Homo sapiens: one gene and its partners. The protein of the gene in region 7 purifies or fractionates together with the protein of the main gene of each other region. This does not show direct contact. Each region holds a gene or a part of one and is shown on either strand. Other genes may lie near its edges. The genes, in order: NPLOC4, REEP5, PPM1A, RTN4, ATP12A, FUNDC2 and DHCR24.

What was found.
Region 1: the proteins of DHCR24 (region 7) and NPLOC4 purify together in Homo sapiens (co-immunoprecipitation; one large-scale study listed by IntAct). This does not show direct contact.
Region 2: the proteins of DHCR24 (region 7) and REEP5 purify together in Homo sapiens (affinity purification with mass spectrometry; 2 studies listed by BioGRID and IntAct, with this or other methods). This does not show direct contact.
Region 3: the proteins of DHCR24 (region 7) and PPM1A purify together in Homo sapiens (co-immunoprecipitation; one large-scale study listed by IntAct). This does not show direct contact.
Region 4: the proteins of DHCR24 (region 7) and RTN4 purify together in Homo sapiens (affinity purification with mass spectrometry; one large-scale study listed by BioGRID and IntAct). This does not show direct contact.
Region 5: the proteins of DHCR24 (region 7) and ATP12A purify together in Homo sapiens (affinity purification with mass spectrometry; 3 studies listed by BioGRID and IntAct, with this or other methods). This does not show direct contact.
Region 6: the proteins of DHCR24 (region 7) and FUNDC2 purify together in Homo sapiens (affinity purification with mass spectrometry; 2 studies listed by BioGRID and IntAct, with this or other methods). This does not show direct contact.

Annotation. Positions count from the first base shown.
Region 1 is NC_000017.11:81,609,613-81,613,112, forward strand, and holds part of NPLOC4 (nuclear protein localization protein 4 homolog), read right to left. Parts: intron 647-3,500; coding exon 598-646; intron 1-597. UniProt on the Homo sapiens protein: The ternary complex containing UFD1, VCP and NPLOC4 binds ubiquitinated proteins and is necessary for the export of misfolded proteins from the ER to the cytoplasm, where they are degraded by the proteasome.
Region 2 is NC_000005.10:112,915,728-112,919,227, forward strand, and holds part of REEP5 (receptor expression-enhancing protein 5), read right to left. Parts: intron 1-3,500. UniProt on the Homo sapiens protein: Plays an essential role in heart function and development by regulating the organization and function of the sarcoplasmic reticulum in cardiomyocytes.
Region 3 is NC_000014.9:60,287,221-60,290,720, reverse strand, and holds part of PPM1A (protein phosphatase 1A), read right to left. Parts: exon of another isoform or gene 2,166-3,500; intron 916-2,165; coding exon 807-915; intron 1-806. UniProt on the Homo sapiens protein: Enzyme with a broad specificity. Negatively regulates TGF-beta signaling through dephosphorylating SMAD2 and SMAD3, resulting in their dissociation from SMAD4, nuclear export of the SMADs and termination of the TGF-beta-mediated signaling.
Region 4 is NC_000002.12:55,022,952-55,026,451, forward strand, and holds part of RTN4 (reticulon-4), read right to left. Parts: coding exon 2,135-3,500; intron 1-2,134. UniProt on the Homo sapiens protein: Required to induce the formation and stabilization of endoplasmic reticulum (ER) tubules. They regulate membrane morphogenesis in the ER by promoting tubular ER production.
Region 5 is NC_000013.11:24,704,408-24,707,907, reverse strand, and holds part of ATP12A (potassium-transporting ATPase alpha chain 2), read right to left. Parts: intron 1,596-3,500; coding exon 1,445-1,595; intron 886-1,444; coding exon 717-885; intron 630-716; coding exon 475-629; intron 1-474. UniProt on the Homo sapiens protein: The catalytic subunit of a H(+)/K(+) ATPase and/or Na(+)/K(+) ATPase pump which transports K(+) ions in exchange for Na(+) and/or H(+) ions across the apical membrane of epithelial cells.
Region 6 is NC_000023.11:155,047,344-155,050,843, reverse strand, and holds part of FUNDC2 (FUN14 domain-containing protein 2), read right to left. Parts: intron 1-3,500. UniProt on the Homo sapiens protein: Binds directly and specifically 1,2-Diacyl-sn-glycero-3-phospho-(1'-myo-inositol-3',4',5'-bisphosphate) (PIP3) leading to the recruitment of PIP3 to mitochondria and may play a role in the regulation of the platelet activation via AKT/GSK3B/cGMP signaling pathways.
Region 7 is NC_000001.11:54,880,696-54,884,195, forward strand, and holds part of DHCR24 (delta(24)-sterol reductase precursor), read right to left. Parts: intron 3,079-3,500; coding exon 2,923-3,078; intron 1-2,922. UniProt on the Homo sapiens protein: Catalyzes the reduction of the delta-24 double bond of sterol intermediates during cholesterol biosynthesis.

The DNA of each region.
Region 1 (3,500 bases), on a different chromosome or scaffold from region 7:
AGTTTTTCTTTGTGTGCCAGTTATCTTTTCAAGATTAAAATGAATCTCTATTAAACACAAAACGCTCTAAGTCAAATGAGTTTCAGGAAAATTGTGCAAAAAGAAATGCCACAAGATGAGGCAAGAGATGCCTCATGAAGAAAATCGGGCTGGCCTTCCTGCTGTAAACCCAGCATTAACAGTTCCAGTCGGCATTATTACGGTAACTCTCAGTCTCACCAGGACAAACCAGTAGAAGAGATGTGAGATTCAAGGCAAAGTAAATCAACAATGATAAGCACGGAGGCCGACAGGCTCAGCTTTGTGTCAGATCGGAAAAGGATTGTCCAGGGAGCCCGCTGTAAATGCTGCCCCTTTATCACAGCCACACAAATGCTTCAGCCATTCATAATCCAGCGAGAAGGTCACTCCCATAAATAAAGGCTCGTCCTGTGTGCAGCTTGCACTAGGGGAATATGAGGCCCAGGGCAATAAATAGGTAAGTTCTTTGAACCACTCACTACAGCCAAGTGCGTGGACTCAGGGCAAGCACTTAAGACAGCTGTCTACCCGCAGCCCCCCACACTGGCCCAGAACTTACTCCGCAGAGACTCTCACCTCTAGAGGGACGCAGTGCACGCATTTCCCCAAAGGGCCGTGGCGGCATCTGAGGAGAGTACAAGGCAGAAAAAGGCAGAGCAGTGAGGATGTCTGTGTTCCGCTGCTGCTGTCTCACATGCACGTCCTACTTTAACAGAGTGTTTCCCTGCCCACGTGGAGTTATATTCCAGATGGCACATGGATAAACATTTATATTTTAATTGTTGTTTTGTTTTGTTTAAAGACAGGCTCTCACTCTATCGCCCAGGCTGGAGTGCAGTGGTGATCGTGGCTCCCTGCAGCCTTCACCTCCTGGGCTCAAGCACTCCCACCTCAGCCTCCCCGAGTATCTGGGACTCCAGGTGTACACCACCACACCCAGAAGTTTACTACTTATGTTGATATGAATTAGAAAAAACTGACCCGCACATCAAACCTGTGACTTCATGGGTATCCACTGCTTAAAATGACACAAACCAGGCCGGGCGCGGTGGCTCACGCCTGTAATCCCAGCACTTTGGGAGGCCGAGGCGGGTGGATCATGAGGTCAGGAGATCGAGACCATCCTGGCTAACAAGGTGAAACCCCGTCTCTACTAAAAATACAAAAAATTAGCCGGGCGCGGTGGCGGGCGCCTGTAGTCCCAGCTACTCGGGAGGCTGAGGCAGGAGAATGGCGTGAACCCGGGAAGCGGAGCTTGCAGTGAGCCGAGATTGCGCCACTGCAGTCCGCAGTCCGGCCTGGGCGACAGAGCGAGACTCCGTCTCAAAAAAAAAAAAAAAAAAAAAAATGACACAAACCAAAGATAAAAGTGAATGAACTCAAAGTCAATGTAAGTAGTTTATTGGCCAAAGGCAGTGGCTCACACCTCTAATCCCAACACTTTGGGAGGCTGAGATGGGTGGATCACCTGAGGTCAGGAGTTAAAGACAAGCCTGGCCAACATGGTGAAACCCCATCTCTACTAAAAATACAAAAATTAGCCGGACGTGGTGGCAAGCACCTGTAATGCCAGGAACCAGGGAGGCTGAGGCAGGAGAATTGCTTGAACCTGGGAGGCAAAGGTTGCGATGAGCTGAGATTGTGCCACTGCACTCCAGCCTGGGAGACGAGAGTGAAATTCCACTCAAATAAATAAATAAATAAAATAGTTTTTTTTTTGTTTTCTTTTTTTCTGAGACGGAGTTTCACTCTGTCACCCAGGCTGGAGTGCAGAGGTATGATCTCGGCTCCATGCAACCTCCGCCTCCTCGTTTCAAGCGATTCTCCTGTCTCAGCCTCCCAAGTAGCTGGGACTACAGGTGCACACCACCATGCCTGGCTAATTTTTGTATTTTTAGTAGAGACGGGATTTCACCATATTGGTCAGGCTGGTCTCAAACTCCTGACCTCAGGTGATCCACCTGCCTCAGCCTCCCAAAGTGCTGGGATTACAGGTGTGAGCAACTGCGCCTGGCCAAGTCCATTTAAAGAAAAGTGTTAAATAGGCCAGGTGTGGTGGCTTGCGCCCTGTAATCCCAGCACTTTGGGAGGCCGAGGCGGGTGGATCACAAGTCAGGAGATAGAGACCATCCTGGCAAACACGGTGAAACCCCGTCTTTACTAAAAATACAAAAAAATTAGCCAGGCGTGGTGGCGGGCGCCTGTAGTCCCAGCTACTTGGGAGGCTGAGGCAGGAGAATGGCGTGAACCGGGGGGACGCAGCTGGCAGTGAGCGGACGTCGCGCCACTGCACTCCAGCCTGGGTGACAGAGCGAGAGTCCATCTCAAAAAAAAAAAAAAAAAGAAAAGTGTTAAATAAATAATAACAAAGCTGGTACGTGAACATGGCAAAGGGCCTGAGAGCGGTGCATAAATAATCCAAGTTTGGAAAATACCTACTTCATATGCATTTTGGGAAATAACAACAATGAAAAAACCTTGTCCCACGGCTTTCTAACATTTTCAGTCACAGAAGCCTTGGGAGCACAACACGCACAATCTGAAGGAGAGGTATGCTGGTTTACGAGGGCGCCGGCGGCCGTCCCTCCGGGGCTCAGTCAGACCCCTTTCTAAGTGGGGTCAGAATTCTTACATGCGTATGAGCCCTGTGCTGCGGAACAGAGGTGGCCTCTGTGCTTCCTAATAGGCAGGATCTAAGTGATGATGGCTCAGAATTCTCTCACACACACACGCTCTCAAAAGCTGCTAATGAAGCCATGAAGACACAGATCATGCAAGCAAGCCAGTGCCAGGCCCCTGGGAGGAGACACAAATGGAAGAGGCATGCCGGCTAATGGCTATGGCTACAAAGTGGCTCCATGCCAATGGCAGGAGAGCACCATTTATGGCTCTCTGATCTAAGACATAAAAGTTGCTAATGCAGCATTTGGAATCCCAATACCGCAAAGTCAGCACCCCGTCACATCTACAGAGTGATGCATTTTAAAAAAGACCCCACTGCAGAGACAACCTTCGCTCAGACAATTTCACATGGCCAAGTATAAACTCAGATCCTTCTCACTGGTTTATTTAAAAGGAATTGCAAAAAATCTAAAATAAACAATGTACATATGCATAAGCACTTCATATAGCCCCAGGTGAGGAGGGAATATTCCAAGGCACAGCATCTTCTGCAAGTGAAATGCTTGCTGCAGGGATGGAGAGCGCACACTAGTGTGGCAGGTCAAAATCATCCAACCGCTATGAAATGAGAGACACAGCACTCACCTCACATGGATGCGCACACACAACCACCTGCCCCTTCCCTCCTCCCTCCCCTGCAGCTGCTGATTAACACCCCACTCTGCACGGGAATCAGCATCTCCAGGGGACATCACAGTAAAGACTTGGTGTGAGGCCCCCAACTCCCCCAATACCTTTCCAGTCTCTTTGTACCCAAATGCTTCAAAATTTTTTATGGGAACATATTTTGAGGTGGA
Region 2 (3,500 bases), on a different chromosome or scaffold from region 7:
AGGCATGCATTGCTCTGCTCTTCAACACTTTAACAAAGCACATATAGATCCAGAGAGAAAAGCTAGTGTAATGGGAACATAGGCAGCTCAGTAGAAAATACATCTGCTCTGAAGTTCTCATGAGTAAAAAAGAACAAAACATAATTACAATTTAAAAAAAAAAAAAAAAACCCACAAGAAAACAAATACACCCCCTACTAATGAGTCCAAGAAGAGAACTACAAATACACATCCTCCAGTACTGTTAAGGAAACAGCTCTGCTTCCAGTGACTAGCTGCAAAACAGAAAGTGTCTGTTCACAACTGTCATTCACACCACGGTGACTTTCTCAAAGTCTCCTCTGGGTAATAAACCTCTTTAGGAGTCTGTCAATGCACACCTTAAGCAAGTAGACTGCAACTCTTTTTAACTTGTGTTCCCCAGAATGTGTCCTCCCTTTGTGTGCTGAGCATCATTTAGCTAAGAGGATGCTGTTGCTTTTACTTGTGGTTAACTGTGTTACAACTCTTGTAGATATTTTCATTGTTTTTTTTCTTCAAATTAACCTTCTTGCCATCCCTTTCTGATCTGACCTCGATAGGGGTCATCCCCAAACATCTTCCCTTGAGATACTTGTCTCTTGAAACAGAACTAAAGGCAACGCTGCATCCCCTTAGGAAATCCAGTTCAGTGTGCCATTTTCAGGTGGCCTTGTGCTAGTAAAACAGAGCAAGCCTCTGCTGTCATAAGTCAAAGCTACATAACAGATAAGAAAAGTTGTTAGTAACATATTCTAACTAATGTCTACAAAACACAGTCAATGCCTATGTGTGCAGATATATGATTTGGGATGACAGTACCTTATTTGAGAGGAAAAATACACTGCACAAAGGTAATGTATTGACAGGGTCAACTGTTTTTTTGAAAGGCCTACATTTTTTAATTTTCATCTCTACATAAGGTGATGTTGTGTTTGTGGGACATTCAAAGAGCCACAAGGGAGGTAGCATAACGTAATCATTAAAAGCATGAAATTTGGAGCCAGATTCTTTGGATTTAAATACCAGTTTCATCATCTGCTAGTTGTGAGACCTTGATCAAGTTATTCAAATTCTCTTTCTGTGTTTCCTCATCTGTAAAAATGGGAATAATCATAGCACTTACATAATAGGGTTGTTCTGAGGATTAAATGAGCTATATTTGCAAAGCACTTAGACAGAGATATGTACATATCTGTTAAATAAAATGCTACACAGATTTCAGGAGTCATACAAAGAGCTAAATGCAATATAACTCTTTACACCAGCAGCAAAAGTTTAAAATGGGCTTGTGAGGACACACAGAAACTAAAATGACACATTACTGAACTGGGTATGAGATTTCAAAAGTGTTGTTAAAGATTAAATATATAGTGCTGGACTCTCGTCTTGAACTCCTGGCCTCAAGCAATCCCTCTGCCTCAGCACCCCAAAGTGCTGAGATTACAGATGTGGGCCATCATGCCCCGCCCCCTAAACATATTTAATCTTTCTAACATTGGCACTAAAATATGCCTAAATGTGCTTTACATTCCTGTGTAGTTCCAGACCAAGCCTGGCCTCTGTGTGACCTTGGGAAACACACTCCACCTTTCTCTGTCCCTGAATTGTCATTTTAAAACTAAAGGAACTGGACTACCTGTTTGATCTTTAAGGCCCAACTCTGATAGTCCCAGGAAGGTGGCAGCCCAAGTCTTAAGGAAAATATGAAATAAAAAGAGGAAAAGTAATAGACATTTTTATAGAATTTTAAGCAAAAAAGTTACTGGGTAGGACAGAAAGCAAACCTTCCCCTTTCCTTAAATAGAAGATAAAGTCTGAGTTTGCCTCACAATTCCATTTGTACAAAGGAGCAAGTACAGGACTAGGGCCCTGGCTCACTAGCGCCCACCCTGGAGGGACTGCACCAGGAGGACTTACTCACATATGAGGGTGCAGCACAGCATACACCCTCCAGAGGACTCTTATTTGTGCAATCCCATTAGAAGCAGGGCTGCACCAGACATTAAAGGCCATATATTGTATGATTCCGTCTACATGAAATGCTCAGAATAGGCAAACTCATAGAAACAGAATGCAGATTAGTGGTTTCCAGGGGCTGGGTAGGAGGAATAGGGAGTGATTGGTGATGGTTTCCCTTTGGGGTGATAAAAATGTTTTGGAATTAGACAGTGGTGATGGTTACACAACTCTGAACATACTAGCCACTGAACTGCATACTTTAAAAGTGTACAATTTATAAGTATCTAAATTATATCTTAGCAATGGGGGGAGGTCTATCTTTATAATAAACATTTCCAGTAGTCTGCCTCCTGTTATCAGTAAAAGAGGGAAGTAAGGAGATTAAGGTAATTATGTCAACAGTTCTTGATGAAAGGAAGGCTGGAATTAGATTCCGAATTGCCTATATAAGATGGCCAAAAATTCTAGAAACTAGAAGTCAGAGATGAAAGACCCTGTTCTCAAAGAGCTCAAAGGGAAATTATGCACACGGAAAGAACAACCAGTAGGAAGAGGGGTATACAATAAGGTACTGGTTGCTCCCCAGTGAGCACTGGGCAAGTCTTCAACCATCTACATGCTCCAACGTGCAGCAGACCCTGACCAGGAGCCAGGTGCACCTGAGCTTCACTCACAGACTTCCAAAGGGAGTCCAAAGGGAGAAAAGCTAGGAAGCCAAGTGAGCTTTTCCCAATTTCATCTTTGCATCCTGCAGTCTCTTGACCCAATACTGACACTACTCCCCTTCTTGTGATGGCCCAAGGAGAGGAAACAGCAAGAGAAAGGCTGAAAGGTGAGAAAGGAAGGAAGTAAATTACTGGCAATAGTTTGGCAAGATCGCGAACTCCTTACAGAGGTCACAGCAGCCAAAGTGACCTTAAAATATAAATCGTATCATGTCACCCCCTATTTAAAACCCATCCAAGGCAATCAGAAAATGCAAACTCCCTACCACCATCTGGAATGAAATGCACACTTCTACCACTGACCCTACCTGCTGGCACCTGCACCTCTCTGGTGCCTCCCCCACCACTCTTTGCTCACACAGAGCTAAGCTGTGTGCTGCCTCAGGGCCTGACACACTCTTCTCCCTCTCCCTGGCTCTGCTCTTGGCTGGCCCCTTCTCATTCCTCAGGTCTTCTCTACCAGAACTGTTTATTTACTTTAGAGGGCTTACCACACGGTCACTACTTTGCCTATTTCTTGCCTGGGTAGACTGCTCATTCAACAAGGACAGAGAGTATGACTACCTTATTTCTTGCCATATCTAAAGTGCTACCACAGTGCCACACATGTGACTGGCATTTGATTTTTGCTAAATAGATGAACCTGTATTTTAAAAAATAACTCTGGCTAGGGAGCATAAGAGTTACAAGAGGTATGGAGAATAGTTAAAATGAAGGTGACTGCTATGGTCTGAATGTTGTGTTCCCCCAACATCCATATGTTGGGACCTAATACCCAATGTATTAGTATTAAAT
Region 3 (3,500 bases), on a different chromosome or scaffold from region 7:
GAACATGGTCACACTTGCAAAACACAGTAGAGAATCGAGAAAATTAGTCAATAATATATCTTCACTGTAAGTACAAGAAGTCTTCACTTGTAGTTTTAGCACATTTACTCTATATCCAAATTCAAGCTAAAGGTATTTGCAAGTTTTATGTTTGTAAGTCAATTATATGGATATTTGAGGTAAAAATGTTTTAACCCTTGGAATTGCTTGAATTTTCCACTTTATTATGTAAAGGTGTAAGCTTAATATTTAACACAAAGTAGTCCAATTCTATGAACTAAAGTGGAAAGGGAAAAGACAAGAAATATATTCTATCTTCTTCCCTGACACCTAAAACCAACTAACCAGCAATCAACAACCAAAAATACTGGGAAAATCAGGCATAGAAACATGGTCCATATGAGGAAGGGGAATTTTCAGGGTGTTAAGTTACTCAGGGATTGACCAAATCAAATTATACTACTACTAACAACGACACTTAGAATTTTGTAAATTTTTATGTAGTGCTATGTAATTTAGTTTAAAAAGTTCTTTCAGTATATTATCTCGTTTATGCTCTATGAGGAAATCAATGCCAACCAAGCTTCCAATAAAGACAACCCTCACTGCAATTAGTTACAATGATACTGATACCTATGTCTAAACAAACTCTAGATATTCTAATACTAAAAAAAAATTGAAATCACAGGTTAAAACACAGATAACTGCATCAGTTCAGAAATTAGGCAAACAAACATTTTATCAATGAATACCTAACATTTTCATACACTGACATAAAGCATAAGAGTGTACAGAATGTAACTTACTTGCTTGCCAATTCACCCCCTGGTGGGAGGCTGGGGATGTTCTCACTCGCTAATGTGCGCATCACATGGACTAAGTCGGGGACGCCTTCCCCCTGCTTCTTTATGATTTCTGGGAATCAGAAGTACTTTTTTTGTAAGTGTTATCCAAATTTAATTGAAAAGAAAACCGAAACAAAGATAACCTAGCTTTTTAAAGATGGCATTTACCACATCTGAGATTTTTCTAATCTGGTATCATTTAAAAAAAAAAAAAATCAGGTTGACCTTTGAAGATTTATGACAAAAAATGCACAAAATGACATATAAGATTAACTTCAAATCAAAATTAAAATGTGAAAAAATATTTCATGTTAAATCAGCATATTATATAATCAAGGATATGTGTGCACAAGTGAGAATACCCTTTCTTAAGATGTCAACTAGTTTCTTCTTACATCACTCCTCTCTTTAGACTGGAAACATGTTTCCTGAACTTTGCCCTATATAATACACTGCGTGGAATTTTAAAAAATAAACAATTTCAAGATTTGAAAATAACAACCCTTAATTATAGGGGAATTTATAGATTATATACTAACTCAATTATTTTTATGTATATATTTATATTTGCAAAATGATACTTAAATAGCATGCACAGATTATGTACTTGAACATCACTGTCTCAGTTTAATTCTTCTCTAAAGTACCTTTAAACAATATACTGTATAGATATATAATACCATTTCCTTCACTGATTACTTCAACAAAGCCTTGAATAGAAAAGGTCTAAATTTCCTTATAAAATGTTTAAAAAGAGAACCATTTGATAAACCATACAACTGCATTTAAAATAATTTTAAAATATCCAGTTATTAAAAGGGCACAGCAATATGATCTGCAGTGTTGTCATGCAGATGCATACTATTATTCACATCACAAAATATAAAAAATTATGAACAAAGAACCTTACAAAGAACTCTACAACTATTCCTCTAAGTATAAAAAGTCTTCACTTGCAGTTTTAGCACACATACTCCACATGCAAATTCAAGTCAAAAGTATTTGTAAGTTATATGGTCAAGTTTTGTTCAGTTTGTTTTTCAATGTTTATGGTAAGAAATGGTATTTTATTTGTCATTAGTGGGGCAAGAAATCATCATTCTGCTTCTCAATTTGTAAATACCTTTGAAAATAACAATGTGTATAAAGATTCGTCCTTTGATCAGGCCTCAAAATTTTTAAAGACATGGCTACCCATAATATTTCTTTAAATGGTTCAAACTGTCCTTTTAGAATAAAGGCCAAATTTTTACCATCTATTATTTTTTGCCTTAAAAAAAAAAACAGTCTTAAATCTGAACAAAAAGCAAGGATCTCAGATTTGGTTTGCCAAGTTCCTTTATTGTGTAATCTTTAACATCTAGTATATTTGTTCTACATGGTTCTAATGCTGGAAATCTGCTGTACAAAAATAAAGGGATTTGATGTTTACCTAAACTGCACAATTTCACAATCTAAAACTAATACACTTAACATACAGTCTCCGCTAAGCCAATACAATTATTTGGATAGATAACTAGATACAATAGAAATAAACACTGATGATAAATTGAATCAATAGTTTCAGGTCTAAAAAACATTACCTTGAATCATCTATATTTGATGTATCTTACATCTCTTTTGTTAAAATATAAATTAGGATATTTTAACTGTGAAGAAAATTACAGGAAAACAAATTCTTGTAAAAAAATAATGTAAAGCTTTAAAAACAGTTAATATCTCCTGTTCCACGTGGGACAACGCATTTAAACTACCTGACCATTCATACTATACTAGCCTTGCTTCTGTCTGCTTTCAAAAAAGAAAAATAAATGAATTTTAAGAAATATTCCTTTAATTTCTGTTGACCTATACGTTTTACTTAGAATTGTAAAAAGACTGAACGCTTTTTCTAAAGAATATTTATATATAGAAGATCCATGTTTCACATACATATACACAAACACATTCTGCTCCTTTCCACTCCCCTCCACCAAGTTTCAGGGATTCTATCAGTCATCTCCAAATTAGCAACTTTAAAGCTAAGGTAGTCAGTAGCAAAGATTTTGAAAATATATACACAAAAGTATAATTTTAAATTGGCTTAGAAGGACCACAAAATTAATAGTAGTATAAATTATGAGCTGAATCTTTTCACACCCCCAGAGAGTCAAGTATTTAGAAGGGAACAAATAAGAGAAAAGGAGAGCTGGAAGGCCTTTGTCCTTTTCTATGGTGTGGACAGAGAAGCCAAAAATGTTCCAAGCAAATAAAATGAGGTTTAGTAGGTCACAGCAATCTAGTGAAGGCATGTATTTAAAGAAAGAAGAGAGAGAGAAAAGAAAAAGGCATTCAGGTGCCTGCTTTGGAAGCTGAAGGCAGTATTTTTCACTGAGGACACACAACTTTTACAATACAAACAGTTACATTCTATGTTTTAAAATAGCAGCAATTTTAATGTAATATTTATTCTCTAGTTGCAGTCTCATCAAATCTGAGTAAAAAATACCATATTTAATTTATGACAATCTCCAATTGAATGGTACAAGTATAATAACACTTTAACATATCAAAAATATTGAGTATCAATGTAAACTCTGTCCAGGTGGCAACTCTTGCTTGATAATAAGAAATATAAAACTTATTATTGTAACAAAATAACGTAAAGTGAATATT
Region 4 (3,500 bases), on a different chromosome or scaffold from region 7:
TCTTTCTCTCCCCTACTTTGACCACAATCTCCTATCATTCTGGCATGTATTTATTCCTACTACTATTGGTTCTTAAACCTAATCTGGGCCTTGAGTTCACTGACCATCTACTCTCCTCCTACCTCTCCTACCTTTTTCTATTCACATCCTTCAACTTAGATGCCACAGTCCATCACTTCAAATTACTCTCCTGCTATCACCCTCAACTTTCTTGACTTACTGTCCTTCCACAGGGCCCACCTGCCAAAACACATCCTTGAATCAATACAATCATTTGCCTTCCCTGAACCCATACCTAGGTTGTTTGGCACAATCAAAGAAAAGTCACCCTACCATTTAGACCACCTTTCAACCTTGATTAGGCTCCTAATACAATGCCTTTGGTTTCCCTAGTCAGAGGTATTGCAGATCTCTTCCACCCAAGCATGATCTACTTCATTCCCAGCAAATGAACTAACATACTGCTTTAAAGAACAAACATAAACCATCAAATAATTCCCTCAACTTTCAGTCACAAAACCCTAACAGTATCAATACCCCATACTTTCCTTTCCACTCACTACAATCAAAGCTCTATCGTTCCTTCTCTCTAACACTAATTCTTCCACCTGAACTAGGCAGCACATCCCCATCCCCTTCTGACTTTCTGCCAGCACCTGTAATCAGATTTTCCCCTTCCCACCTTAAAAAAAAAGTCCTACCTCCACTGCATACTCTCCTTCCTGCTTGCTAATATTTTAATTTTTCTCCAATAAAAATCTCAAACTTCTTAAGAGTAATCAACATTTAATAACCACTTACTCAAGTCTCATTCACTTCTCAATCCTAGCCATGCCCATGCACACCACACCATTTGCCGCTGTCATGACAATATCTTCCCTCCTTTTTGACCAACTTGCAATCCTTAACTGACCTCTCCAGTATTTGATAATTTTGACCATTTCTTCCACCTTCAAGTAGTCCTCTTCTCTTGATTCTTCCTAATTGGTATCTGGGGCTTTAATTTCTATCTCTAAGCCCATGACAGACACATACAGCCAAGATCTCTCTCAAGAGCTTCATGTGTATAATATCCATAACTTACTGGATATCTTAGAGGTATGTACATCAATACCAACATATCCAAAACCAAATTTGTATCTTCCCTCTTAAACCTACTTTAATCTCTCATGTTCCCTATCTCAGTTTCTCATACTGCCACCCATACAAGTGCACATGCCAGAAATGAAATCCAGGGTTCCTGGGGTCATCTTTACCTCTTCCCCTCATCCTTTATGTCCCTATCCGTCAAACACCAAGTCCTATGTCTCTGTGCTCATCCCACTGCCTGAATGTTCATAATCTCCTCTTTCTTAGATTACAGCAACTGGTCTACCACTGTTCCAATGGTGATGAGCTGGACTGTACTGCTGAAGCACCAGCACTTAAATACATAAGTATATTCAGTAAATTTATCATAATCACTATTTTAGAGAAAACGCAGCTAAATCAGAATGCTAATAAAGAGCACATGTGCAAATCACCTTGTGCAAATCACCTTATGCAAATCAGGTATGTGGAAAATGGATAGTCAAAAGAAAAAAAGGAGAATCGGTACTTTTCAAAAGAATTCATAATAGCATAACTCATTTTATACTTTTCAACAAAATGTCTACACTCAATATGCCTAACTTTATACCTACCACTGGAAAAGTACTATATTATATAGAAATATTTAAAACATACTATAGAAATTTTCTTTAAAAATTAAATATGGTAATTTCTGGGATAACAAAAACACATCTGAAAATATTTTAATATCTCTTGCTCTTCATGTTATCAAGAAACACAAGTGAAAAAAGAAAGAAAGAAAGAAATAGGTACTAAAGCCAATTCTTATAAACAAAAATATTTTCTATTAATAGTTCCATAGTGCAATATAAAAGTGTAACTGTGTGGAAAAGTTAAGGGTGAATGCTGAGTGCAAGAGAGTTAGAAAAAGCACTAAAACCTTTAACTGAAAAAGTGGAGAAGACTTCTTACCAATGTGACATATGAGACACTATAAACATAATATAAAACACAAAATGTAGTGGAATGTTCCCTAAATCCAAAAGTGGCATGAAAGCACAAAACTGCATATAGATTGGATTACCTGAAGTTTTACTCAGCTCTGCTGAAAATATAGCAGATGGTGATCTGTCCTCTTTTTCTGTATCGGAAGGAAGTTTTTTCTCAGCTTCTTTCACAAGAACTTTGGGTTTAACTATGCTCTCTATCTCTGCTTGAGTGGCCAAAGCAGAAACATCTGGAGGCAATAAGAGCACCTTTGATGTAGCAGACCCATTTTTAGAAAAGTCATCTGAGAAACTGATTTTCTCTTCAACTTTGGGTTGTATGTTCTTCAAAGAAAGGTCATGGGGCAATTCTGTGCAAGGCAATGACCCAGCTCCATCCGGGGCATTAGCAATTTCACTTTTGTGGGATACTTCTAGGTCAGTATATTCCCTGGCTAATTTAGAAAATGAATCAGTTTTAGAACTGATCAATGTAGGGAACTCATCTATAATTTCAATTGGAGATGAATCTGAAAACGTTTCAGTTTCTCTTATCTGTGCTTCCTTAGAAATAAATAAGTCATCATTTGAATAAACTGCAGTACTGAGCTCCTCCATCTGCAAAGGAATTTTCTCCTTTTTGCTCAATGTTGAAACTTCATCAGGTAACAGGGTATCTTTTGTGTTATCTAAACTGAGCTTAAAAGATTCCAAATATGGCTTTCCTCCCTCAGGTGGCAAAGCACTGAGTTTTTCCTTATTTTCATATTCTATCATTGACTCAAATGAAGTCTCAGTGAGACTTTCTTTCACAAGCATCACAGTTTCATCTTGTTTTTGTGGAACGTCAGGTATTGAATCATCACTAAATAAGTCAACTGGTTCAGAATCAGGTGAGGAATCTTCAACTAGCTCAGAATGATCAGGCACTGGCTGTTCAACTTTTGCCATTTCTGAATAATCAGAGAAATCCGGAGCTGGTTCAGCAGAAAGCTTTGTTTCTTTAATTAAATCACATGCAATAGATATATAAGGAGCTTCTGTTTCTTGAAGAGCTGCATTAATATTTTCAGGCTCTTTAATTTCTTCCTTTATTCCTGATACTTTTTTTAGTGATACACTCATGGCCTCTTCATATGGTGGGGGGTTTTCAGGCTCATGTTTTATGCTTTCATAATTAACTGAAGAAGCTTCTAATGGTGATGAGCTGGGCTGTATCACGGAAGCACCAGCACTAGGAACTGCAGAATTCAATGGTGCTTCCATAACAATGTCAGGCAAAACTGGTGAAGGAGTAGCTTCTGACTCTTCAAATGATGGGCAAAGCTGTGCTGCAGGATAGAGTGACTCTTGCATAACTTCTGATGTTTGAACCAAGTCCATTTTTGTTTCATAAGCAATCTTTGTACCAGTAACTTCATTCAATTCACTTTCACATGCTTCCTGTACTAAATCTGGAGTCAG
Region 5 (3,500 bases), on a different chromosome or scaffold from region 7:
GAGGCCGAGGCAGGTGGATCACTTGAGGCCAGGAAACCCCATCTCTACTAAAAATACAAAAATTAGCCAGGTGTGGTGGCACAAGCCTGTAGTCCCAACTACTTGGGAGGCTGAGGTGGAAGAATCACTTGAGCCTGGGAGGCGGAGGTTGCAGTGAGGCAAGATAGCACCACTGCACTCTAGCCTAGGTGATGGGAGTGAAACTCTGTCTCAAGAAAAAAAAGCTCACTATAGAGTGTTTTTAATTTCCAAACATTTGGCAGATGCCTCTGGTCCCTTGCTTTGAGGTGTGGCATGTGGACTGGTAGAATGGGCACCACCTGAGAACCTGTGAGAAATGCAGAGCTACAGGCCCCATCACATGGAAGCTGAGAAGCCTTGAGTTAGTCCATCCCCGGCCCTTGAAGGTAGCGACCCTGAACTTGACCTCCCCTGGGGCAGGCATCACAGCCTGTTCCCTTCAGTGTCACTTACAATGTCTGTCCCCAAGTCAATGAACAGAATGGTGATGGTGCCAATGGGCAGGGGGAGCCCGACAATGATGTAGATCAGAAAGGGGCACAGCTCGGCAATGTTCTTGGTCAGGGAATAAGCAATAGTCTTCTTGAGGTTGTCAAAGATCAGGCGACCTAGGCAGAGAGGTTTCTCCTTCAGAACTTACTTCTAGTCCCCCAGACCACCCTGGCCCTTGGGAAGACCCCCTGAGACTCACTCACCTTCCTCCACCCCTGTGACGATGGATGCGAAGTTGTCGTCCAGCAAGACCATGTCGGCTGCATTTTTGGCTGCATCAGAACCTGCTATCCCCATGGCAATCCCAATGTCTGCCTTCTTTAGAGCCGGAGAGTCATTAACTCCATCCCCGGTCACAGCAACAACAGCATCCTATGGCGGGGGACCCAGGGAGAAAGTGGGAGTGAGCAGGCCCAGTGGGTTGCAGGCCTGGCAAGAGCAACAAGACTTCCCTTTCTCTTGAGGTTGCGAGGATGATTATAGCTGAACGGAAAGGCCCATTTAGGGGAAAAGATAAAGATGAGAAATCTTAGAAGCAGGAACAAGGGTCTCCAAACAAGATACGTGCAAATGAGGAAAACCTAATGCGCAGGTGTCTTGTATCTTATGTCTTCACATTTTTTGTTTTAAATCTTTGCATTTTAAATCTCTCTTTACTCACAACTACCACAGTGGCAAATGCTTCACCGGGCTCTCATGACAAAATGCAGAGAGCTGGGGTGAGCCTTTCGGGGAACATGTGGTGGGGGTCTCAAAGGAGGACAGGGGCCAGCCCACCTGAGAGGTTGGAGAGGTCAGGTGATGGGGATGAGCCAAGAACTCTCTCTTGAAGTTTCAAAGGCACCACAGCCTGATGTGAGATCCAGACCTCTGCACTTGCCCATGGACAGTGATGGGCCTGTCAGTCCTCTGGACACTGCTGTCCACCCACCTGCCTCTGACAGCCCTCCACAATGATCAGCTTCTGCTGGGGGGATGTCCGGGCAAAGACAATCTCCTGGTAGTTGGCTAAGATCTCATCCAGCTGTTCTGAGCTCATGTCCTTCAGCTCCATGCCAGTCACCACAGCGGCCTTGGCATCCCTAGAAGGGCCAGAAGAAACTGGGTGAGGCCCAAGGGCAGATCTTAGGTTGAAACACTGTTCCAGGCAGGATGCTGGCTGAAGCCTCTCTGACTTGACCTGGAACCCAGTGTCCTTGATACCTAATGCTCTAGTGAGGTAACAGGAGTCCTGGGAACACTTTAGTCTCCATTTCAAGAGGGCAAACTGAGGCTAAAATATAACACCATTTCTTGGTACCATATAACAATAGGAATAAAAAACCAGGTAGCCTTATCCCTACTAGAACAGGTGAGAGTGGTACTTCCTAGAGCAACGCTTTACTTCAGAAGTAAAAGGAAGTTAAAAAACTGCCCATTCATGGCCAAACGCAGTGGCTCATGCCTGTAATCCCAGCACTGTGGGAGGCTGAGTAGGAGGATCACTTGAGGCCAAGAGTTCAAGACCAGCCTGGGCAACATAGTGAGAGCCCCTGTCTCTACAAAAAATTTTAAAAAATTAGCCAGGTATGGTGGCATGTGCCTGTGGTCCCAGCTACTCAGCAGGCTGAGGCAGGAGGATTGCTTGAGCCTGGGGGGTTGAGGCTGCAGTGAGCCATGATCATGCCACTACACTCAAGCCTGGGTGACAAAGTGAGACCCTGTCTCAAAAACAAAAATAAAAATAAAACCCCCAAACTGCCTGTTCATATGTTTTGGGTCCTAGAATTCTTTTATGGCCAAACAAGGGGTAATAATTACTTGCCGTTGGGTATTTCAGATTTACAGAGTGTCATCTTTGTGCAATGTGCTACGTAGGCAGAAGTTTACTGAAGTCTTTGAGCAGCGCTATTGCCTGCTGACTATAAAAGTAAGGTTCTAGGGCCTATTGATTATGCAGAGCTGCCTGAGCCAGTCCCCTGCTAAAACTCTTCAGGGGCTTTCCACCGTGCTTGGAGCAGACCCCGGAATCCCTAACTTTAGCCAGCGAGCCCAGGTGGGGCCTGCGTTGTCAAGCTTCGCCTCACCTTGGGCTCTCCCTCCTGCCCGCTGGATGCTCTCAGTTCTGACATCCTCCATCCCCTGTACCCTAAGGCCTTCACGGGTCTCGCTCCCTGACCAGGAATGGGCATCTCTCACCTCAGCTTCTCGTGGCTAACACTACATTTCAGCCTTCAAATCTCAGCTTAAACAATGTAGGTACAAACTGCTGCAGGTCTTTTTCTTTACAATTTGCAAGTTTTGAGCTTTCTAGGTCTGTTTTACCTCTTGGTGCTAAATACTGGAATTCTAGCACTTGACTCAAACTACAGGTCTCCTTAACCGCTGGCAAAAAAACAAAACAAAACAAAACAAAAGAAAGTAAGAGAAGAAAGAAGGGGTGTTTCCTTTCCCCTTACACCTGCTAAGATGCAATTTTTATATGGTCATGAAACTAGAGCTGATGAAGTGAATAACTGAAAACATTCACAAAAGCATCCACTTCACTCAGTGTGGTGATTTGTATACAAATGTGTAATCCACTCTTCCCTTTTGTGGCCATGAGCAGAGTGGCAGTGACCAAGAGGAAGTGCAGTCCCTTTGTGACTTTTGACTGAGGCAAGAATCATAAAAGTCATTTCAATGCACCTTCCCACATTCGTAGGAAGATTATGTCTTTCTCTCGTTCCAAAGAGCTGAGACAGAAGCACATTCTGGAGTCTGCTACAAGCACAGTTCCATCCATGCCCATCTGAAAGGATGAGGAAGTTGAGGTTGCACAAAGACACTATACGGGCCAGCAAATTGGCAAAGCAGTCCAGGTTTATAGGAAGAAATGTGCCACCTATACTGAACAGGAGCACAGGAGGAGGCTAAGGGCAGGACCGTCGTGTGCACGTCACCAGCACATGGCCATCACCAGGCTAAAACTAGACAAAGACCACAAAAGATCCTTGAATGGAAGGCCA
Region 6 (3,500 bases), on a different chromosome or scaffold from region 7:
GTGATGTGTATCATAAACAAAACATTGATACTCAAAAAAGTGAACTTCTTATAGAGATCAGTAAGAAAGTTCACTTTAAAAATGGGTAAGGGCAATTCAGAGGAAAGTGTCCACAAAAAGGAAAAAGTTCAACTTCACAAGTAATCAAGCCATAGTACCTTTATTTATGAGTCTATAACTGGAAATACACAAAAGTCTATCAACACATGAATGGATAAACAAATTGTATCATATTTACACAATAGAATATTACTTAGTACTAAAAAGAACAAATTACTTACAGCAACCACATAGTTGAGTATCAACATTTGTATCTAAAAGAAGGCTCTGGTTCATTTACTCCACCCTGTTTATCCCACAAAATCCTGCTATTAAACTGAGAGAATACATGGACTAGCTATTTGAAGGCTCTTACATAAAAACAGCGACGTGCAGATTGGAGAAGACCAGAATTCAAAGCACCACCAAACTGGTGGCGTGTTTCCTGCTTTTCCTGCAGTATCGCCTGGCCTAACCTCAAGGCAGGACTCAAGAAACATCTGACAAAATTCAACGCAAATTCATGATAAAACTCTCAGAGAAAGAGCAATAGAGGGGAACTTCCTCAACTTGATAAAGAACATCTACATAAAAAACCCTGCAGCTAACACTGTACAGAATGGTGAAAGAACGAATGCAGGGAACAAGGCAAAGCTGTCCGCCGTCTCCACTCCTATTAAATATCGTACCAGAAGTGAATTCAGAGTCAGCACAACAAGGCAAGAAAAAGAATTAGGAGGCATCCTGATTCACAAGGAAGAGGTCAAACTGTCTCCAATCATAGACATCTTTGTCTACATAGAAAATTTCATAGACTTCAACAAAAAACAAAAACTCCTAGACTAAAAAAGTGAGTTTAGCAGGGTCACAGGACACAAATTCACACAAAACCAACTGAATTTCTATATGCTAGCAATTTGAACTGGAAATGAAAAATGTTTAAATGATTTACAACAATGGGTGCAAAAAATAATTAAATATTAGGTACAAATCAAATAAAACATACAGGATCTGTATACTGAGAACTACAAAATGCTGAAGAAAGAACTCAAAGACAACCTAAATAAATGGAGAGACACATCATGTACATGGAATGGAATACTCAACACAGAAATGATGCCCAGTTCTCTCCAAATTATCCATAGATTTACTGCAATCCCAAATCACAAATCCCAGTAGGATTTCTTATAGATACATAAATAAGCCGGTTCTAAGATTTATATGGAAAGGCAAAGGAACTGGAATCACCAAAATGAATCTGAAAAAGAACAGAGTTGGGGAAATCACACTACCTGATTTAAGATTTACTATAATGCTACAGTAGTCAAGACAGTGTGTCATACTGAAGAAGAGATAGACACACAGACCAACAGAACAGAATAAAAAGTACAGAAACGGACGTGGACAACTACAACAAACTGATTTTTCACAAGGGGGCAAAAGTAGTAATGGTGGTGGTGAAGTCCCCTGGGTGGCCCAGGCCAGGATTGCGAGGTGACTTCCTGCTCTCCTTGGCATTACTGGGGGACTGCACTGCAGGGGCAAAGCAACACCAGAACTGGGAAAAGCAGCCTCTCCCGCTGCAAGGTCCCTCCAGCGCCCTCTACTGACAAAGCTCAACATCCTACTTCCATTGCAGCACAACAAGTAGAGGGAGCCGAATAAACTGAAAACTGGCAAGCGTTGCTGCTGGGCTCTGAAAGCTGCAAAAAGTGCTGGAAATGATCTACAGCTTGGTAAGAAAAAGCAACTACATTCATAAAGACGTGAAGGAAAAATTTCACTGTTCACAGATGGCATAAAAAGATTTTATAGACAAAACCCAAAAGAATCCCAGACAAGACTTTTTTAACAAGGTGGCTGGCTGAAAGAGCAACATAAAATATCAACTGTATTTCAACACACTAGCATGAATCAGAATGTGTAGTTTTAAAAATCGTATCATCCACAAGAGCAACTAAAGTTATAAGGTATCCAGGAATAAAACTGAATCACAGATGTACAAGATCTATACGGAAAAATAATAAAAAGTCTATTCAAAGGCATTAAAGAAGACCTAAATAATTGGAGAGAAAGCCCGTGTTCACAGATAGAATACTCAATATCATAAGAGATATCTACATGGTTCCAATGCAATTCCGATAAAAATTTCAACAGGATTTTTGAAAATAACTGACAAGTCTGATCTAAAATTTAGATGAATGAGCAGAAACACAAAAGTAGCTGCAACACTCCTGAAGAATAAGGTGGAGGAATTTGCATTACCAAATATTAAGCTTTAGTACTGTCATAAAGATCGAAAGTTGACCAGTGGAACAGAACACAGAAACCAGAGTCACAGCCACACATACATGGGTTCTGATATATGAAAGAGACAATGCTGCAAATGTTGGGAAAGGGAAGAATTATTCACTAAATTCTGCTCAATTATCAGTATGGAAAAAAGGAAACTGGATCCCTATGTCAAACTATAACTTGTGATATAACTGATCTCCCAACATTATGCTTGCCTCCTGCTCTCACTCCCCTGGTGACAGATAACATGAGTGCCTGCCACAGATTCTCCATGTCTCACCTCTGCAGCAAAGCAGTGTCCCTGTACCCCTTGAATATTGGAATTATCCAACCCCAAAATCTCATTTTGAGGTGCCTTTCTGGAGACATTTTCAATACCAATTATTTCTGTCAGGGCCCCAAAACGAAACAGAGGACACACTCAAATTAAGACATTTCAAAGCAATATTAAAATGTTTATGAAGTTTGGGGCAGCATATAAGGGAAACCACAGGGATAGAGATGTTACTGCACTTCCACCTGAAGGGTCAAGGGGAAGGAGAGAGAGGTGTGAGGAGGGGCCCCACCTTGCAGGGAGTCTGACCTGTCTAGCAACAGAGCCAGCACGTAACAAGCCCACAGGGAAGCAGCCAACAAAAGTGAGGCTTGGGCAACAAAGGAGATGCAACTTGCACCATGTTTCTGCAGAACTGTGCTTGGGAGTCCTGAGGTCATGGTAGTGTGAGGAAGCCTATACTGGCACAGGGACCACATGGAAGAGCACTGAGACTATGGACAGGGGGGAAATAAGGAGAGGAGGAGGGAAGACAAACAGAGACAGAGACACAAAGAGGCCCCACAAGTCCAGACCTACCCTAACCCTCTGATCATCTGGCCTGTAACCACATGAGACTCTGATCCACAAGCACCTACCTTAACCCTCCCCAAACTCCTGTAACCATGAGAGAGAATAAAGTGATCATTATTTGAAGCCATTAGGTTTGGGGGAATTTGTCATGCAGCAATACCACACTCAACCCAGCTACAGCCAGTTACCAGCTTCCCTCTTCGATACATTTGATTTTCACCTGACCTATCTGCAAAACTCACTCCAATCATGGTGCTAATGCAGAACTTACCTTGCAAAAGTGAGGGTTGCCAACTGTGGGAAGAGACAAACGGCTGTG
Region 7 (3,500 bases):
TGGAGGTTGCCGAGAACTGAGATAGCACCACTGCACTCCAGCCGGGGCCACAGAGCTAGACTCTGTCTCAAAAAACAAAAATATAAACAAACAAACAAACAAACAAACAAAACCCCCACAATGCATAAAAGAAGAAATTAACAAATTGGGAAAAATTAAAACTTCTGATTTGGCCAGGCGTGGTGGCTCACGCCTGTAATTCTAGCACTTTGGGAGGCCAAGGCAGGCAGATCACCTGAGGTCAAGAGTTTGAGACCAGCCTGGCCAACATGGTGAAACCCCGTCTCTACTAAAAATACAAAAAATTAGCTGGGTGTGGTGGCACATGCCTGTACTCCCAGCTACCCAGGAGGCTGAGGCAGGAGAATCACCGGAACCTGGGAGGCGGAGGCTGCAGTGAACCAAGATCGTGCCACTGCACTCTAGCCAGGGCGACAGAGTGAAACTCTGTCTCAAAAAGAAAAACTAAATAAAGCTTCTGGTTTTCAAAAGAGAAGCCACAGACTGTGAGAAAATATTTGCAAATCATGAATCTAATAAAGGATGTTGTTTCAGGGTCTAATATCCAGCATCAATAAGGAACTTAAACAAACTTACAAGAACAAAACAACCCCCATTAAAAAGTGAATATAAAAAGGACATGAACAGACACTTTTCAAAAGACAAGCATGTGGCCAAGAAGCATATGAAAAAAAGCTCAACATTACTGATAATTAAAGAAATGCAAATCAAAACCACAATGAAATACCATCTGACACAGTCAGAATGGCTATTATTAAAAAGTCAAAAAATAACAGATGCTGGTGAAGTTGCAGAGAAAAAGGAACATTTATACACTGTTGGTGGGAGTGTAAATTAGTTCAACCATGTGGGAGACAGTGTGGTGATTCCTTAAAGACCAAAAAACAGAAGCAGCATTTGACCCAGCAATCTCATTACTGGGTATATATACCCAAAGGAATATAAACCATTGTATCATAAAGACACATGCATGTGTATGTTTACTGCAGCACAACTCACAATAGCAAAGACATGGAATCAACTTAAATGCCCATCAGTGGTAGACTGGATAAAGAAAATGTGGTACGTATACACCATGGAATACTATGCAGCCATGTTCCTTTGCAAGAACATGGATGCAGCTGGAAGCCATTATCCTTAGCAAACTAATGCAGGAACAGGAAACCAAATACCGCATGTTCTCACTTATAAGTGGGAGCTAAATGATGAGAACACATGGACACATACAGGGGAACAACAGACACTGGGTCCTATCAGAGGGTGGAGGGAGGGAGAAGGGAGAGGATCAGGAAAAATAACTAATAGGTACTAGGCTTAATACCTGGGTGATGAAATAATATGTACAACAAACCCCATGACACACGTTTACCTATATAACAAACCTGTACAGGTACCACTTAATTTAAAAGTTTAAAAGAAAAAAAAAAAAGATGTTTCCAGAATATATAAGAAAACCACCTGAATTTTTTTAAATTGGCAAAAGATTTGATCAGGCCTCACCAAAGAAGATATACAAATAGCAAACATGCACATGGAAAGATCATTAGTCACTAGGGAAATGTGAATTAAAATTACAATGAAAAACTACTACACATCTATTAGAATGGCTAAAATTAAGACTAACCATATCAAGTCTATTACAATGTGGAACAAGAACAACACTCACGCTGCTGGTGGAAATGTAAAATGCTACAATCACTTGGAAAAAAAATTTGGCACTTCCTTAAAAAGTTAAATGTACACCCACCTTATGATCTAGCCATTCCATTCCTAGATATTTGCCCAAGAGAAAGGAAGGCATGTGCCCATACAAAGACTGTTCACAAATGTTCCATTTTATTTGTAATTGCCCCAAACTGGAGCCAGCCAAAATGTCCATCAGTAGGTGAATGGATAAACCAGCTGTGATACATCCACACAATATGTGTGGGAATATGACTCAGCAGTGAAAGAGAATGAACTATTGACACACCTTTCAACATGGATGAATCTCCAAATAAAGATGTTGAGTGAAAGAGGCTAGACAAACAAAAAGTACTGTATGATTCCATTTATATAAACTCTAGAATCAAACTAATTTATAGTGGCAGAAAGGTCATTGTTTGCCTAAGGCTGTGGGGGGCGGGTAGGGGAAGAGGCAGGGCTAGGGGCTAGAGGAAGGGATTACCAAGGAGCATGAGGAGATTTTGGGGTGTGATGGGTATGTTTGTTGTCTTGATTGTGGTAAGAGTTTTACCACACTTTAAATACGTCAATAAAGCTATTAAAAAAAATGGCACAGAGAGATTAAGTAACTTGGCCAAGGTCTCACAATAATAACAAAATGCCATCAAGTAGACATACCATATTTAATGACTACCCTATTATTGGATATTGTGTTGTTGTCAATTAGAAATAAAGCTGTGATATAATCACTCTGTGTTGGGTATCTTTATACTGAAGCCTATTTCCTTTTTCCTTAAGCCAGGTTTCGAGAAGTAAAATTACTAGATGGGCCAAAAAGTATGTACATTTCGAAGGCTATTAAACAAGAGGGTTTCCAGGAAGCTTGTAACAAGACCCATGTCTCTCAGTCACTTCTGTAGCCCATTTTTTACCAGCACACTTCCTTATCAGGAAGGGGTAAGTAGATTCCTTTTTGCCTCTCATTTTTGCTCACGAATTCCCCATTCCTGACTTCCTGTGGAAACGCAAAGGGTTCCCCTGACCTATTATGACCCATCTCTCCCCTGGTGGCTGTGAGGCTTGAGGACAGCAATGGCAGGGAGTATCTTCTATGACTGTGGGCATTGGTCCTGTCCACTCTGCAATGCCCTTGGCTAAAATCATCTCCCTATGAGTCACTTGCACCAGGGGCAGTGCCCCACCTGCTCCCAGAGCCCGGAAAAGTGCTACTCTCACCTGTTTCTTGGTGTCCACTTCCAGAATGTCCATCAGGTTGATCATGATGTTTTTGTGTGTCTTCTTGTACTTCCCGACACGTAGTGAGACAGTGAGCCAGCCAGGGCGCCCCGTGCACATGAAGGTCTTGCTACCCTGCTCCTTCCATTCCCGCACCTGCAACCACAGGACAGAGGGTGAGCTGGCCCCACTGGGAATCCCCAGAGCAGCCTGCAGCCCTGCTTTCTTCAAGGGCGAGCTGGGAATGATGCCTCCATCAGGCACTGGAGAAACAGAACAATGAAAAGGCCTGCTGGCCCTACCCTCTGGCACCTCCCTGGCCAGCAAGGCTGACAGAAAAGCCAACATATTGCTACACCACAAGGCAGAATGATGAAAGAGCTAGAAGAGAGGATCGAAGTGTTCTGAAAACATTAACTCTAGCTGGGAAGTTCAGAAAAGGTTTTGTAATGGTGATAATAGCAAGTATAAAAATGAGGACCATTTACTGGGTATTCCCAACACACTAGGCATCTACTGCACACTGTCTTGTGTAATTCCTACAACAGTCCCAGGAAGTTACGATGACACCCTTTTTT